Linked DNA regions of Homo sapiens: region 2 is linked to region 1. Evidence: fine-mapped expression QTL. A gene starts in region 1. The other region holds a variant in brackets. All regions are shown on one strand. Distances are between the middles of the regions.

Region 1 (2,896 bases):
CGGTGTGTGAATGGCCCTCAGAAGAGACAGTGCTGGAGTTCTGCACTCTTAGGGCCCCCAATACCCCCGAGGCCTGGGCATGCAGAGGCCACTGCCCTGGCCCAAGTCTGGGGCAGGTGCAGCATCCCCTGGGACCTTGGCCCCTCACCACCGGCCCAGTTTCCTCTGAGACTGGGGGTCCCACGGGCTCCTAGCAAGTAGATGAGGAGACCGAAAGTAGCCCTGCAGCTGGGCTTTCTTTCAGGGGTCAAGTTTCTAGGGAAAGGAAGGGGCGTGGCAACCTGAGGTTTGGTAGCTGTACCCAGACGGGGCTGTCTGTGGCTTCCCCAGGCAGCAGTTCTTCCTCCTCTCTGTCCCCACCCAGGGTCCTCCCCCACACTCTAGCACCCCTGAGACTGTCCCCCTGGGCTACCATCTCCACCCCAGCTCTGAACTGGAGGAGGGGACGTGTTTAGGGGTGCAGGGCCGGGGTGCTAGGGGCTGCATTTGCTGCAGAGCAGGGAGCCAGCCCCTTCTTTCCCAGTTGCAGGCCCTGGACCTGGTCACCTGTCCCTGGACCTGGCTTCCTGTACCCTTCTCAGGTCAACTGGGGCAACCCATGTCCCCAGGCTACCCTCCCCCCGTCTCTCCTGGGGGATACAGAGTCTCAACTAGGGTCCTCCTGCTTGTCAACCTGGCATTGGGGACCCCCTTCCCCAGCCTCCCAGGCTTTGGCCCCCAAGTCTGGGATGGGATAGGCTGGATAGGCGGCACGTCTGCTCTCTGGGGATAGAGGATCCCTTGGGAGTGGCTGCCGCTTTGCTCCACAGAAGGAAAAAGAACGTCCCAGAGCCTGCCCAGTCCAAAAAAAGAATAAGAAAATGTGACAATCCCAGAAAAAAATGTCATAACCTTTGGGAGGGGGGTTGAAGAGGGGCTCCATTCTCAGTCCTTAGCTCCTACCCAGGGCCTTTCCCATCTGCCACCCTCCACATCTGGCTGGTGGGCGAGCCCTGGCCTGGCCCCTCCAGGGAAGGCCAGCTCTCCCCACCTCTGAAATGGTGGTGGTGGCCCACCCACCACGCTCCTCTCTCTGCTGTTAGGGTCCAGTCTGGAGAAGCCTGTGTTCTCCTCCAGGTGCCTCTTTCTTCAGCCTCTGACGCCCCCACCCCTACCTCAAAGCTCCCTACTCACCAGCGACCCAAAGGCGGGGTGGGGGCAGGAGGGGCCAGGTTGGGTCTGGGCCCCACCCTGGCTGCCGAAGGGGCGTGCACTGCAGCAGCAGGGACTCAAGTCAGACGGCAGGAGGGACTCCTGCGGCGCTCTGGAGGGAGGCTAGCGCCAGGAGCCCCCGATCGGCTGGGGCCGGGGGCGCAGCGCCTCCCCTACAGCTCGAAGGGCTGAGTGGCTGCCAGATCCAGCGGGGTGGGGGCGGGGGCGGACAGGGTGTCCCGCCCCGGCCCCTCCTCACCGGGCTGAGAGGGGGAGGGAGACGCGGAAACCTGGGTTCTTCCGGCCCCCACCTTTGAGCAATCACTTCCCCAGGCTTTGAGCTCCAGAAAAAGGGGAACCCGGCTGCGGCGCCCCCTCCCCCACGCGCGGGGGGCGGGCTCCACTTCCACTGCGGCCCAGGGTCCACGTGGACCTGGCGGCGGGAGCCCTTGGGGTTCGAGTCCCGTGCGCCGGCTCCCGAAGCTCCCGCCCAGCACGGTCCCCGGGCCCGGGCCGGGAGGGGCAGGGCCGCTGTCCCCGGCGCTGCGCGCGCGCACTCACCAGCCGCGCTCCCGAGCCACTCGCGCCGCCGCCGGCCCGCGCGCTCCAAGGTCCGGCCCGACAGTCGGGGAGGGGGCGCGGGGGCGCAGTGCGCAGGCGCCTCGGCGGCACTTCCCCAAAGCCAGGGGCCGGGACTTCCTCGCGCCGGCGGTCGCCGGGCCCGCCCCGCCCGCCGCGCCCCGCCCCGCGCTCGGCCGGCTCCGCACCCCACCCGCCCCGCCCGCGCGTCGGCCCCCACAGTCGCCTGGGGGTGGCCCGGAGAGTCGAGGTGCTCATAGTGGAGCCCTGGCTCCCGGGCGGACGGAGCCGCACGGTAGTAGATGGGGGTGTGGCCGTGGCCCCCGACTCTGCTCGGCGGGGCCGTTCCTGCTTTGCCATCCGTGTGGGACTTCCACGACAGTGGAGGCACGAGAGCTGGGCCCCATATGCTGCTTGCCCAGCTTGGGAAAGAGGAGGCTGCTGCAAAGGACCGATCGGCGGGTACGCCAGCCCGGCCCACCCCTCGCCTCCGTGAGCCGCGTCTGTAAAACTGGGTTAAGAGCCGCCTGTCTGTGCTGTGGGGGGTTCCCAAGGAAGGGGGAGATTCCTGTGCTGCGGGGCTGGGGAGAACTGGGGGTGCGGGTTCTTGCATCCGGAGTCATGCCGAATGTCTCCTGTGGGGCCTGGCAGAGTCCCTGCTGACCCGTGTGTCCCAAGATGTCCTAAAGCTTAAGGCCACACTGTCCCCTTTGCCACGAACGCCCTGTCCCTTTGGCCGACTCTTCTCATCCTTTATGACTCGGTACAGACGTGGGTTAGGCTTCTCATCGCAGCATGCTTTGGCCCTGTGTCAGGGTGGCCCTGACCCTGCTCTGGAAGTGTCTGCAGAGCATCTGTGCCCCCCGCCCCTCCCCTGGCCCGGCTGTGTGCAGCTCCTGTCCTCCCCAGCACAAGCACTCCACCCGGATAGTTCCCAGTGTCGGGATCTGTTCATAAAATGCCTTCCAGTTGCACAGGTCAGGTGCACACCTTACACCTTCACAGAACTCTGAGGGGTGCAAAGGCAGCTGGAGATTCTACTTGTATTCCTCATTCAACGGACAAGTATCAGTATCTGGGTGCCCCTGTGGGCCAGGCAGTAGGACCAGAAGCCAGCAACATAGAT
Region 2 (2,896 bases), 470 kb before region 1:
TGACCAAGAGGCTGTGACGAGGCCCTACGAGGACTCTGGCTCTCCTCCTGCTAAGCACACCCAGGCAGGTGTCCTGGCAGATGAGGACCACATGCAGAGCCTCGGCCAGCCCACCAATGCCCGGATATGCAAGTGAGCCCAGCCTGGACCCCCCGGCGAGGCCCAGCAGCACCAGCCCAGGCCCGAAAACCTTAAGAAATGACCAGTGTCTGCTGCTTTAAGCCACCAAGCTCTGCGGTGGTTTGTTAGGCTGCAAGCATGGCTAATTCAGAAACTGCCAGAAACAAGCACTGCTGTCCCCAGCCTGGGACACACAGCACCGCCTCTGCGTGGGGAGAGGGCACAGGCTAAGGGCACAAATGCCATCCCAGACCCGGCTCTTGTGTGTGGAAGGGGCCACTGTGCCATGAGGCAGAGGAAACCTTGGCAGGACCTTATGCCACAGCAATTTAAAAGAGAAGAAACAGGCTGGGCGTGGTGGCTCATGCCTATAATCCCAGCACTTTGGGAGGCCAAGGTGGTGGATCACTTGAGGTCAGGAGTTCAAGACCAGCCTGGCCAATATGGTGAAACCCTGTCTCTACGAAAAATACAAAATTTAGGCAGGCGTGGTGGCGGGTGCCTGTAATCCCTGCTATTCAGGAGGCTGAGGCAAGAGATTTACTTGAACCCGGGAGGTGGAGGCTGCTGCAGTGAGCTGAGATCATGCCACTGCACTCCAGCCTGTGTGACGGAGTGAGACTTGGTCTCAAAAAAAAAAAAGGAAACACATCTGACTAGTGTGATCTCGCAAGGAACATTCCAGACACAGTGGAGCTAGAAGGTTCTTCTCCAAACAAGGAATCCCCAGGGGATCAAATTGTTTTGCATCGGCCAGACATGGTGGCTCAAGCCTGTAACCCCAGTGCTTCGGGAGGCTGAGGTGGGAGGACTGCTTGAGTCCAGGAGTTCAAGACTAGCTTGGGCAACACAGTGAGAGCCCATTAGCCAGGCGTGGTGGCACATGCCTGCAGTCCCAGCACTGTACTAAAAATCTACACGGGGCCGGGCATGGTGGCACATGCCTGTAGAGTCCCAGCTACTCAGGAGGCTGAGGCAGGACGATTCCTTGAACCCAGGAGGTCACGGCTGCCATGAGCCGTGACTGTGCCACTGCACTCCAGTCTGTGCAACAGAACGAGACTCTGTTTCGAAAAACAAAAAATCATTTCATGTCTCCAGTTTCTCCACTGGCAAAAGACTCTGTCAAGGTAAAAAATGGTTCTGACCCACAGAAATCTAAGAAAGGAAAAAATATAAAAAATAGAAAATTTAAAAAAGAGATGGTCTCAGAATAAAGACCAACCTGGGCTATGGTTGTCACTCTTCCCTCACACCTTAGAAAGCTTTCTGGCCGCATCTGGCCAAAGGGCCACCCTGCCCCATCTTGGATCAGTGAGGTGCCTTCGAACAAGCCACCTGCCCTGGAGCCCGTCCTGTCTTGTCTGCCACCGCACGCTCAGTAGGGGAGGGGAAGTCGCTAGGTTTTAGTTCACCAGTCTCTGGATCAAGACGTGCCATAACCAAGAAGCCCCAGCCACACCCAGACCCGA[C/T]GTGGCCACAAGGGGTGAGCTGGGAAGGCCCAGGAAAAGGCGGGAGGCGGACGAATGGAAATGTCATTCTGTGGCCACAGAAATGATCTCAACGTTTTGTAACTTCCTACCAAGAGGCAGTCTTAGCTCTGCCCTTGAACCAGCACTTGGTGATGTCGCTTGCGTCAATCAAGGCAACAGAAGTGAGCAGGAGGCCCACTTTCCTCTGCAACTGTGGGCTTACGGGGCAAAGAAGTCCAGGCCTCCAGGTGGAGGATCACAGACCGGGCAAAGCAGAGGAGAGCCACCCAGCCGAGCCTACCTGTGCCTCAGACTGCCTCCCTCCAGAGACCCCTGTGGCCAAGGCCACCCAGACCAGCAGGTCCTTGCCAAGCTGTCAGCTGACGACAGGGGTTGGTGAGGCCGGCCCAGACCAGCAGAACCACGAACCAACCAACAGAATTAAAAATAATAACAACTATGTCTTGTCTTAAGCCACTAAGTTTTGGATGGTTTCTTTCTTTCTTTTTCTTTTTTTTTTTCGGAGACGCAGTCTCACTCTGTTGCCCAGGCTGGAGTGCAGTGGCGCAATCTTGGCTCACTGCAAGCTCTGCCCCCCGGATTCACGCCATTCCCCTGCCTCAGCCTCCTGAGTAACTGGGACTACAGGTGCCTGCCATTGGGTGTTTTCTTAAACAGCAAAAGAAAACTGACACAATCATAAACAGAGCAAGCAAGAGAACTTGGCAATTATTTCCTCTCTACTTCTCACTGTTCTTCAAAGAGTTAACTCAAGCATAAGATGTGAGCAAATTCTTTTAACATCCTAGAAAAAAAGCTCCTACTCAGTGTTCATAAAGCAAAGCTAACCTACAGGAGCCACCTTCCACAGTGACCACAGGAAACCAAGACAGCAAGTGGGACACCAGCCTCCAGGGCACTGCGCCAGCCGTGCGCCTGTGTCTGCCACTGCCCTGGTCCGTCACTGCCACCAGCCGGCAAGACACCCACAGAGGAGAGCTCTAAGCCACAACTGTGTACGAAGACAACTGTGCAGGATTTTATTACTACAACATTTTTGTTTTCTTTTTTTTTTTTTTTTGAGACTGAGTCTCGCTCTGTCACCCAGGCTGGAGTGCAGTGGCACAATCTCGGCTCACTGTAACCTCCATCTCCCTGGTTCAAGCAATTCTCCTGCTGCAGCCTCCCAACTGGATTACAGGCGCCCGCCACCACGCCTGGCTAATTTTTGTACTTTTAGTAGAGACGGGGTTTCACCATGTTGGCCAGACTGGTCTCAAATTCCTGACAAGTGATCCACCCAC

Evidence for each region. PIP is the estimated chance that this variant, and not a neighbour inherited with it, causes the effect. A credible set is the group of variants that fine-mapping cannot tell apart.
Region 2: its variant is the best candidate, but not a certain one, in a credible set for the expression of RGS19 in whole blood (TOPMed, PIP 0.63).

Annotation. Positions count from the first base shown.
Region 1 is chr20:64,078,121-64,081,016 of GRCh38, forward strand. It overlaps RGS19 (regulator of G protein signaling 19), which reads right to left and starts at 1,398. Exons shown (of 6, transcript NM_005873.3): 1 at 1,174-1,398. OPRL1 (opioid related nociceptin receptor 1) reads left to right here and starts at 1,962. Exons shown (of 5, transcript NM_182647.4): 1 at 1,962-2,232. RefSeq lists silencers at 1,300-1,979, 2,373-2,546.
Region 2 is chr20:63,610,865-63,613,760 of GRCh38, forward strand. All of the region lies in intron 2 of GMEB2 (glucocorticoid modulatory element binding protein 2), which reads right to left. Among named protein-coding and RNA genes, the nearest start is that of GMEB2, 15 kb to the right of the region's middle. The variant C/T (reference allele first, on the strand shown) is at 1,593.